Linked DNA regions of Homo sapiens: region 1 is linked to region 2. Evidence: fine-mapped expression QTL. A gene starts in region 2. The other region holds a variant in brackets. All regions are shown on one strand. Distances are from middle to middle. Region 1 holds the start of IQCF6 (IQ motif containing F6). Region 2 holds the start of GLYCTK (glycerate kinase).

Region 1 (5,370 bases), 510 kb after region 2:
TTAGCCGGGCGTGGTGGCGGGCACCTGTAGTCCCAGCTACTCAGGAGGCTGAGGCAGGAGAATGGCCTGAACCTGGGAGGCGGAGCTTGCAGTGAGCCGAGATTGTGCCACTACACTCCAGCCTGGGCGACAGAGCGAGACTCTGTCTCAAAAAAAAAAAGAAAAAAAAAAACTGAGTCTATCCCAACTCAGCCTTCCCTTAGTCTCGTGGCAAAAGAGGTTGCCATTCCACCCCACTCAACAGGAGGTGAGTGACAGAGGGAGTAAGAGGGAAGAGAGACAGAGGTCCTCTCCAATTGCAGCTGAAATATCTTGCTTTCACAAATTTTACCCAAAAATATACAGCTCTGTAAACACGTTCCTCGGGCCCTGACAGGCGCCCTGACACTTAAGCTTCAGGAAATCCAAATTGGCTATGAGTAGAGGCTTAAAGTAAAACTCCTTCCTTGTAGGTAAGCTGCATGACTCTCTCTTCACTGCCATCAGGAGGATCAGGAATGCCACTGGGGCTGAGAAATAAACTGAAGGCAAGAGATAATGGTAGGCTCCCAAAGTGGTGGGAATCAATAAAGCAAAAGAGATGAAAGCAAGAGAAGAGGAGAGAGAAATGTGGTTAAAATGCGTGCAGACGGGACCTGATGAGGTAGAGTCTTGTGTGCAAGTGGGCGGAGTCCAATGATGGAGGTGTGACTAACAGTTGAGGGTGGGGCTAAAGACAAGGGTGGCCTAAGTGACAGATAAGTGGACCCTAAGGATCAAGGCCATGGACACGCAAAATGTGAGTAAGGCCCTTGCAGTAGGGACTTACCTGACAGGTAATGAACCGTGTCTAAATGTGAGTGGGGGATTGGAAACAAGATGGATGGGCCCTAGAAACAAGAAGTCAGGGGCACCTGGGCCAGGCCTTCTTTCCTCCCAAGATCAGAGATGGGGATAGGAACAGGAGGGGAGGGTCCCCCATTGAGCATCTCCCTGTTTTTCCTTTCCCCCAATCAGTTAGAGAAGACAGCCATAAAGATTCAGTCATGGTGGCGTGGAAACATGGTGCGCCGGACGTTACTGCAGGCAGCACTCAGAGCCTGGGTCATCCAGTGCTGGTGGAGGTCAATGCAGGCCAAGATGTTGGAGCAAAGACGGCGCCTGGCACTAAGACTCTATACCTGCCAGGAGTGGGCGGTGGTGAAGGTGCAGGCACAGGTTCGAATGTGGCAGGCCCGCAGGCGGTTCCTCCAGGCACGCCAAGCGGCCTGCATCATCCAGTCTCACTGGCGCTGGCATGCCAGCCAAACCCGAGGCCTGATCCGGGGCCACTATGAGGTCAGAGCCAGCCGGCTGGAGCTTGACATCGAAATCCTCATGACCTAGGGCGCTGACAGAGCCAAGGAGGCTGGATCTCTCTTCCAATAAAGACCCTTACTGACCATACACTTGCCCTTTGGAGATTAGACTCATGGAGGAGGGTTCAGCCTCTAAGTTTTCTGCCTTCCCCCCAGAAAGATTCCCTGGTGTGGTCTAGAGCCCCTGTCCTCAGGTCACCAACCTAGGCCCCTGTTCCTAACAGCATACCGGGACAGTCTTGCATCCAAGAGAGACCCCAGGGCCCAGGTCAAGCAATGATGCCTCAGTCAGCCTGATTTTGGCCCCTTCCACAGTGGGAGTAGGCATTGGGCTTTAGTTTCCTGCAGCCCCTGTCCAGGCATCTCCATTCAGATCAGAAGATCAGAGAATCTGGCTGCAGCCAGGGCCAGCTGGGAAGGCCAGGATTCCACAGGCCTGTGCTTGGCAAGGCCCTCAGGGCCGGCAGAGTGCTTGGCAGGGAGCCAGGAGGACATGGCACTTCAGCTGGGCAACAGCAGGACAGACGCTGTGCCTTATGGTGGGGAAGGGAGTCAGGGAGCAGCCAGCCAGAGCCAGCCCCTGGGGAAGCCAGAGCAGGAGCTGAGGGCAGCAGCTGTGCCTGCCGCCTGCCCACCCTGGGGCTGAACAACAAGGCTTCCCTCCCCTCTGCTGGGCACTTCCTTGGAGAACCAGGCATGGGATCAGGGAGGGGAGAGAGACTTGGGGGCTGTGGGGGGATGGTTGTGGGGGTGGCATGGGGGCAGGTAAACAAACAGAGGACTAGGGATAGGCAGGGGAAAGGGTTGTCCCTCTGCCACTGGAGGTCATTGGGCACACAGCCTCTAAATCCTAT[A/C]ATGTCCTCAGAAGCAGCTGTGCTCCTCCTCCACCCCCATGTCCCCTCTCTGGCCTCCCCCCAGGATGCCTCACCGTCTGCTGGGCCTGCCTTGGGTGGGTGCTGCTGGGCTACTGCTTTGCTAAGTCTCTCTCTGTCTCTGGGCACCTATGGCGCAACCATCTCTCATGTGGTCTCTCACTGTCTCTGGTTTGTCATCCATGCCCAAGGCCCCTCACTCTCAGCTTGTGTCCCTCAGATGTTTGTGTGAACCTCCATCCCAGAAGTCTGAGGTCTGCAACCCTCCGCAGGGTTTTTCCATGGTGGGCCCTGCAGGAGCGGTGGGAAGGGAGGTGTGCAGGGGTCTTCATGCCTTGCAGCTGGGTGACACTTTCCCTAATCCGTGTGTGTGTGTGTGTGTGTGTGTGTGTGTGTGTGTGTGTTGGGGGTGAGTCTCCAGAACAGCTGTAGCAGATGTGAGGGCTCAGGGTTCAGCCTGACACCCATCATCTGCAGTAGCTGCAGGTGGCAGTGAAGCAACTGGGTACCTGGACTTTCTGACTGAATCCCGCTCTTCCAAGGGAACCCATTCAGTGGTGCTGGATACAGCTCTGCCCACCTCCTACTCACAGCAGCAAGTGGTATGAAACTAGATAGGTCTGCAGCTGGGCATAATAGGAACTCTGCATGACTAACCCCTTAGGTGCTACCCCAAGAGTGAGAGGTGTTTAAAACCTGGATTGGCAATGGTTTAAGTCTCTGAGTTATATATTTTCAACATAGGACATTGCAATCCCCTAGGACACTAAAAAAAATAATGATACCTGGATCCACCCAGGGATTCTGCTTTAACTGGACGGGTATGAGGCCTGGCATCAGGATTCCAAAGTGCAGTCTTGGTTTGGGAACTGCTGAGTTAAGCCCTTCTCAGCTGGCCCATGTAGTCCCACTTGAGGATGCTCTACAGAATTTCATGCTGAACACAGGAGACAGGTCATCAAGGCTTCCTGCTCTCTGATATGCTAACAATGCCAAGTGAAATAGGAATCCAGTGGGAGCACCACTTTGGGTCAAAAACTTTTGGAAACAGGAAGACACAGCTTGGTAGCTGGGGGCTGAATGGGAGGGGCTTTTGAGGGGAACATGAGTGAGACCTCTTGTCCCAGATAGACAGGATCTCAAGAAGATGGCACCACCCAACTGTGAGCAATGAGACTCAAGGGCTAGCCCAAGAAAGCCAAGCTTCATCCAAAGCCTTCACCACCACTCCACTTTGGGTGTCCTGCTGGTGGTCAGGGGCCTTAAGAAGCTAGGGATGGTCGGGACCTGTGGGCAGTGGGCATTGGAGAGCCCCAAGGAAGAGGAGGTGAGTGAGGCATGGGATGGGAGTCAGGAGAAAGACTCCTCTTTAACAGTGAGGTCTGTGGCCAGTGTTGGCCTAGATCACTGGAGCCACTCTCCCCTCCTCAGTAGGGGTAAGGCTGCTGGTGGGACTCTCAGAGGCAGACCTCAGAGGCCCTTCCTGTCACTCCTTACTATTGCTGAGGATTGAGCTGCAGGAGGAACTCTTTCTGAGAACACGTATCATATGCTGAAACACTGAAGTGTAGAAGGGGAGGCTGTGCTTGTGGCTTTGGGATGGGAGTAGATCTCAGAGCACTCTAGGGGGACCGAGTATCCTCAATCTTGCTCCTCCCTCAGATGACATGGTGTCCCCAAGAGATATGTGCCCACAGCCCTCCCATAAATAAAGAATTGCATTGGCCCTCACACTGGCCCAGCCTGCTGAGGCCCTAAGAAGGTAGCTCAGTAAGTGAGGGCCCATCCCCTGCAGTTCTCTTCCACCAATGGGAAAGGATTCCCAGATGGCATCTCATCTCTTTGTCCCCAGGGTGCCCACCCTATGCTTTCAAGCCTCCCACCTGATACATCACCAACCTCAGCTCTGACCACACAGCCCCAGGGTCTCCAGAGCCTTGTCTTTTGCTTCTTTGTGTCCCACGTGCTAAATCCAAAATGAGATGACCACAGCCACCGCCATGCCATGCCAGGCAGTTTGAGTGGACTGACCAGCATCCCGCTGACCACACATACACCCATGTTACAGGAGGGCACCACCCTACTCCATCCCCACCCTGCCAGGGTGGAAATGCTTAGTGTGAAAAAGTCGATCAGCTTTGTTTCAAAAAATTGAGTTTGCTCAAGTCCACAAGTTAGTGGAAGCAGGCACTTATGTAGAAGAGCTACAGTGGGTTGAAAGAAAAAATGTTTCCTGGGCACTCTCAAAGCTGTGCTTTCATATCAAGTGTCAACAAATAGCTTTGCATAGAGTTTTACCTTTAAAAAGGTGACCATAGATTTTGAGAGTGAAAGGTGCAATCTTGATAAATACATTGGAAATACCAAGTGCAAACCATGACTGTCCTGGGAAAACCGGGAGGTGTTAGCAGCCTATTGGTAAGCCTCCGTGTGCAGAGGGTGGCAGGAGGTGGGGGTTGGGGTAGAGGGCAGAGAAATTTCCAGCTACACAAGAAGAGACAAAAGAAAAGCCCATGCATGACCCTGAGAAAGAGTGTGAGGAGGCTGAGGTACTGCTGCAGCCTGCTGCCTGCCCCTGCCCTCCACCTCTTTCCCTTGTGTCACCCCAATAGGCAAAGGGAGATCTGAGAATATAACCTGGGGAGACTGCATAGCTCAGAGATGAAAGGAAGCAGAAGCCAAGGGAGATGCCTAAGTGATGGGTCTGGGGACAGCTCCCACTGAGTCCTGTACACTTCCCTATGGAGCACGTAAGTAGCCAAGATCCCTGGGATCCCCAGATGGGGGAGGCAAGAAGTGCCAAGAGGACTGGTGGTCCCAAAGAGGCCTGAGATAGAGACAAGAAGCCACAGACTATAAAGACCTTGCCACCTGAGGCCAAGGCAGGGACCATGGGCATTGCAGAAGGTGAGTTTAGGTCAAGGGGTGGAGCACAGAGAGGTCCATTTCTCAGAGGTGGATTGAGGATAAACAACATGTCACCCATAACAGCAGCAGAACCGGTTGCAAGAATCAACCCAGGGTTGGGAGCAGTGGCTCACGCCTGTAATCCCAGGACTTTGGGAGGCCAAGGTGGGAGGATTGCTTGAGGCCAGGGGTTCAAGACCAGCCTGGGCAGCATTGTGAGACCCTGTCTCTAGTATCTCTCTCTCTCTCTCTCT
Region 2 (5,370 bases):
CTCTGAGGGCTCAGGGCCAGTGGACCCCACAGCTGCTGCTACAAGAAGGAGCCATCTGATAGCCCCAGGAGACTTCCTGAAGCCTGCAGCTGCAGGATCTTACTCGTCCTTGGAGACCAGCCCTGCCACCCAGCCACGTCCTCCTCTTCTGCAGACCACATGCCGGCCCTCTGGATACTCTGCCTCAAGTCCAAAGTTCCTATTAGCTGGGCCCTCCTCCCAGGTCACCCCTTTGGCTGGGAGTTAATCATTGACAGAGGGAGTAATTTCTACCAGTGGGCTCCCATCCCACCCCTTTTCCACCCCCTGCACTTCTGCGCTGTTACCCTGGGGCAACGCCCCTTTCTGGCACTCCTTCCTTGCCTCTTTACCACCTCTGCTGCCAGGAAGCTGTTGATTGTCCCACCAACTGACCCTGAGCCCATTGACCTCCAGTCTTCTCTATTTCATTATCTCATGAGACTGGGATTAGGAGCCTGGGAAGTCAGGGTCTATAGGAGGCTGCAGGTTTATCAGGTCAAACCCAGAACACATCCTCAGGGCAAGCAATCTGAGGAATCTCAGTATGCAGGACCAGTTCAGCAAGAGGTTTAGGTTCAAATCAGGAGTGAGGGCAAAGTCTGGCTCATGGTGGAACCTTAGAAAAGTCCCCAGGCACCATGTGAGGCCATGTGCCATGAAGCCCAATTGCAGGACAGAAAAGGATGCCCTTCTACCCACACAGTTGGCCAGACCCAACCCTGCCAAGAACACGCCTTCTGGTTCCAAGATAACAAAAACAAGTCCTAGGTCACACCACCCACAGTGGTGAGAGCCCAAGGGCTGAAGTAGGCAAAGGCCAGGCTCCCATAACTGAGCCCATAGCCATTTTCCCCACTGGGCAGAGTAAAAGCTAAAGAAGCCTTGGGGCGAAGGTCAGGAAGCTGTAGAGGGGTATAGGAACAACAAAGACCCAAACAGCTCATCTGTACTACATATGTACTATTGCATCTACTTTAATAAATGCCTACCATAAATGTTGCAAGCTGACTTCATCAGCAAGTATGGACTGAGCAGGGTAAGGAGGCTGGGAATTGAGGTTCCAGCTCTACTATAGGCTTTCTGAGTGGCTGGGACACCTCCATTTCTCTCACTGGGCCTCATCCGCAAAATGAGACATGGGGTGAGATTAACACTACGCTCTTCCCTTAACAACCTCAGGCTCTCTGATACTGTCCACTGCAACACAGATCTCAAACACCGGTTTACCCCACACCCAAATATGGTGGTTACTTCTAGACTTTGACCATTTTGCTTGCCTAGTTCTCAGCTCTCCGGTAAGAAAAGACAGCCATGCCTGACTTCTGTTGTGAAAGGGAACACAGAGGGCATCGTCATGGGGATTCCGAAAATGGGTCCAGTTTTGGCCAGGGGGACCCCTGGAGCTTGCCCATTGGACTTGGAGCTAAAAGCATCTTAGCAACTAAGACAGCCGGTCTTTATAGCCTGGATGAAATTTGTATCTATTTCCCAGATGGACAAGAGCCTAGAAGATCCCAGCCTTGCCACTGGGTATGAGCACAGGACAGGGGGACGCTCAATGCTAAGGCTGCCAGAGAAAATACAGGACTTCCGGTTAAATTTGAATTTCAAATAAACAAGTAATTTTTAAAGTATAAGTATGTGCATACAATGTTTAGGACTTAACAATTATTCGTCGTTTATCTTAACTCAAATTTAACTGGACGTGGCCCGGCGCAGTGGCTCACGCCTGTAATCCCAGCACTTTGGAAGGCTGAGGCGGGCGCATCACCTGAGGTCAGGAGTTCGAGACCAGCCTGACCAACGTGGTGAAACCCCGTCTCTTCTAAAAATACAAAAATTAGCCGGGTGTGGTGGGCGCCCGTAATCCCAGCTACTCGGGAGACTGAGGCATGAGAATCATTTGAACAGGGGAGGCGGAGGTTGCAGTGAGCCGAGATCGCGCCACTGCACTCCAGCCTGGGTGACAGAGTGAGATTCTAACTCAAAAAAAATGTAACTGGACGCTTTGCATTTTTATTTGCTAAGTCCTCCAATTCTATCCAAGACACGGTCTCTCCGAAACTCCGGGAGGCTCCAGAGCAAAACAACGGAAATAGGAAGACTACCGGTCTTGACTCCTCCCCGCCATCAAAGAAGGCTGGTACCATTTCCGGCTTTCCCTAGACAGTAGGGGGCCGGAAGTGACGTCATCCTAAGGTAGGGCCTTAGCGAGGGAAATGGCTGCCGCGTAATGCCCGGTGATGCGAGAAAGAAGGGCCTGCTGCCACCAGGACCCGTCATCGCCCAGCCCAGGGACCGCTTCTGAAGGCCATGCGAGCCCTGGCGGCGCAGACTTACCAGCCCACAGCTCCGGCCGCGGTGCCCAGCGCTGGAGAACGGAAGTACTAGGGGGTGGGCGGAGCGGAAGCCGGAAGTGTGGGTGGGTGGAGCGGCGCAGGCGGGTGCGAGCTCTGGCTGAAGCCGGTGTCCGGGAGGGGAGAGTTTAGCATATTGGCTCTTTGCTGGCCACTGACAGACCTGGAAGGAGTCACCTTCAGTCCTCATTTTTTAAATCTCTACATTGAGGGTAATAATCCCCGCCTCACCGATTGCCGATTTTTTTTTTGAGACGGGGTCTCATTCTGTCGCCCAGACTGGAGTGCAGAGTCGCGGTTTCGGCCCAATGCAACCTCCGCCTCCCGGATTCAAGCGATTCTCATGCCTCAGCCTCCCGAGTAGCTGGGATTACAGGCATGTGCCACCACTCCGGGCTAATTTTTGTATTTTTTAGTAGAGACGGGCTTTCGCCATGTTGCCCAGGCTGGTCTCGAACGCCTAACCTCAAGCGATCCACCCACCTCAGCCTCCGAAAGTGATGGGATTACAGACTTCAGCCGCCGCACCCGGCCTCTCCCTTCCTTTATCCTGTACGGTCAGTCAGCAGATGCACCCTGAGTGTCAGGCACTGACTGGGCTGAGCAAACGAACTGAGAATCACTACTTCCCCACAACTCACCCCTTCTGGAGCCAGATTAAGTAATTCCCGCTCCTCTCCATGGCTTTTATTCCACAACTTATTATTGTTCTTCCCTCTCCCACCATGGGCCACCAAATACAGCTCTGGCTTAGCAAGAGTTCCATTCTGCGATCCTCAAGCACATAAGCGGCATGTAAACGCTAATGACTCTGGGCCTACCTCGCTGTCCCTACTCTCATCCGGGGCCTACCCTGTGTTGGCTGGATGCCTTCCCACATTCATAAGATGAGTCCTGATCAGACTCCAAAAATACAAAACAGTTCACTGTTTTTACTGATGTTTTCTTAGGGAGATAGAGGAGAGAGTTGCATCACAAATCACACACTTGATTTCCTAACAATTTTATTGAAACATGTTTCTTGGCAGGGCGCAGTGTTTCACGCCTGTAATCCCAACATTGGGGAGGCCAAGGTGGGCGGATCGCTTGAGCCTAGGAATGCGAGACCAGCCTGGGAACATGGCGAAACTTATCTCTACCAAAAAAAAAAGAGCCAGGTGTGGTGGCATGCTCCTGTAGTCCCAGCTACTCAGGAGGCTGAGATGGGAGGATCACCTGAGCCTGGGAGGTAGAGGCTGCAGTGAACCTTGATCACGCCACTGCACTCCAACCTGGGCCCCTGTCTCAAAAAAAAACCAACAAACAAAAACACATTTCTTTCTCTTGGTTTTGAGGTGGAGTCTTGCTCTGTCACCCAGGCTGGACTGCAATGGCACAGTCTCAGCTCACGGCCACTGCACTGCAGCCTGGGCACGATGTCGGCTCACTGCAACCTCCGCCTCCCAGGTTCAAGCAATTCTCCTGCCTCAGCCTCCCGAATAGCTGGGACTACAGGCGCCCGCCACCACGTCCAGCTAATTTTTGTATTTTTAGTAGAGACAGAGTTTCACCATGTTGGCCAGGCTGGTCTCGAACTCCTGACCTTGTGATCCACCGCCCTTGGCCTCCCAAAGTGCAGGGATTACAGGCGTATAAACAATTACAGGCGCCCGGCCTATATAAACAACCTTCATCTTTCCCCATGCTGGAGAACACTAATTGCCACTGCTTGGTGTCTGTGTTTCCCTGGATGGCTGCCCTCACACTTTATGCTTGAATAAATTCTTTTAACTGGATATCGAACCTTTTGATGATTTTTAGGTTGACATTAGAAATGTGTTTTTGGGACAGGTGCAGTGGCTCATGCCTGCAATCCCAGTACTTTGGGAGGCTGAGGCAGGTGGGATCATTTGAGGTCAGGAGTTCGAGACTGGCCTAACCAATATGGTGAAACCCCATCTCTACTAAAAAATACAAAAATTAGCTGGGCATGGGCCGGGCACAGTGGCTCACACCTGTAATCCTAGCACTTTGGGAGGCTGAGGCAGGTGGATCACCTGAGGTCAGGAGTTCAAGACCAGCCTGGCCAACATGGCGAAACCCCGTCTCTACTAAAAATACAAAAATTAGCTAGGCATGGTGGTGTGTGCCTGTAATCCCAGCTACTGGTGGGGCTGAGGCAGGAGGATTGCTTGAACCTGGGAGGTTGCAGTGAACCGAGATTGCGTGACTGCCCTCCAGCCTGGGTGACAAAGCGAGACTCCGTCTCAAAAAAAAAAAAAAAAAAGATTGTTTATATAGGCAAAAACAGGAGTGCTGACCAGAATTACAACATTTTCCAAAAAAAGGCTAACATAAATACAAGATTTGGTTGGCTACTATTGATTATACTGGAAGGAGTTTGCTTAACATTCTATTGTAAAGAGACAACAATCACAAGGGTCTCTATCTCCCACATCATCTAGTCTAAGTCTGAATGAAGAATAGGGAGCCTGGTTAATGTATAACATTTCAATACAAAGATCAGGAAGCAGCAGTCATGCATCAGAGAAGAAAAAAAAAAAGCAATGCCTGCTCAGTTTCCAGGGCTTCACTTTTCTCCTTCACATTATAAATTGGGAATGTCCTAAAATTTTATTTTCTTTTCACACCCCCTACCTGCTCCCTTTGGCAGTTGCTACATCTCTCCTTAGGTCTCCAAACCATGCTGTGCTCTTGTCATGAACCTTTCCCTTCCTCTGGCCCCCACTTCCAGCTCTCTCCCTGGATTTTTCTTTTTCTTATATATACATATATTTTTATTTGAGACAGGATCTCACTCTGTCACCCAGGTTGGAGTTCAGTGCCATCATCTTGGATTATTGCAACCTCCACCTCCGAGGCTCAAGTGATCCTCCCACTTCAGTCTCCCAAGTAGCTGGGACCACAGACGTGCACCACCACACCCAGCTAATTTTTTGTATTTTTTGTAGAGAAGTGGTTTTGCCATGTTGGCCAGGCTGGTCTCAAACTT

What was found.
Region 1: its variant is fine-mapped to the expression of GLYCTK in atrial appendage (GTEx, PIP above 0.99).

Annotation. Positions count from the first base shown.
Region 1 is chr3:51,774,618-51,779,987 of GRCh38, reverse strand. It overlaps IQCF6 (IQ motif containing F6), which reads left to right and starts at 751. Exons shown (of 2, transcript NM_001368369.1): 1 at 751-835; 2 at 997-1,425. The coding sequence starts at 764. The coding sequence ends at 1,365. All of the region lies in intron 2 of LOC105377087 (a long non-coding RNA gene), which reads right to left. The variant A/C (reference allele first, on the strand shown) is at 2,192.
Region 2 is chr3:52,284,868-52,290,237 of GRCh38, reverse strand. GLYCTK (glycerate kinase) reads right to left here and starts at 2,410. Exons shown (of 5, transcript NM_145262.4): 1 at 2,362-2,410. GLYCTK-AS1 (GLYCTK antisense RNA 1) reads left to right here and starts at 505. Exons shown (of 1, transcript NR_046719.1): 1 at 505-1,658. It overlaps LOC107986086 (a long non-coding RNA gene), which reads left to right and starts at 2,218. Exons shown (of 3, transcript XR_001740699.2): 1 at 2,218-2,405. RefSeq lists enhancers at 2,643-2,752, 1,579-2,778, 2,084-2,825.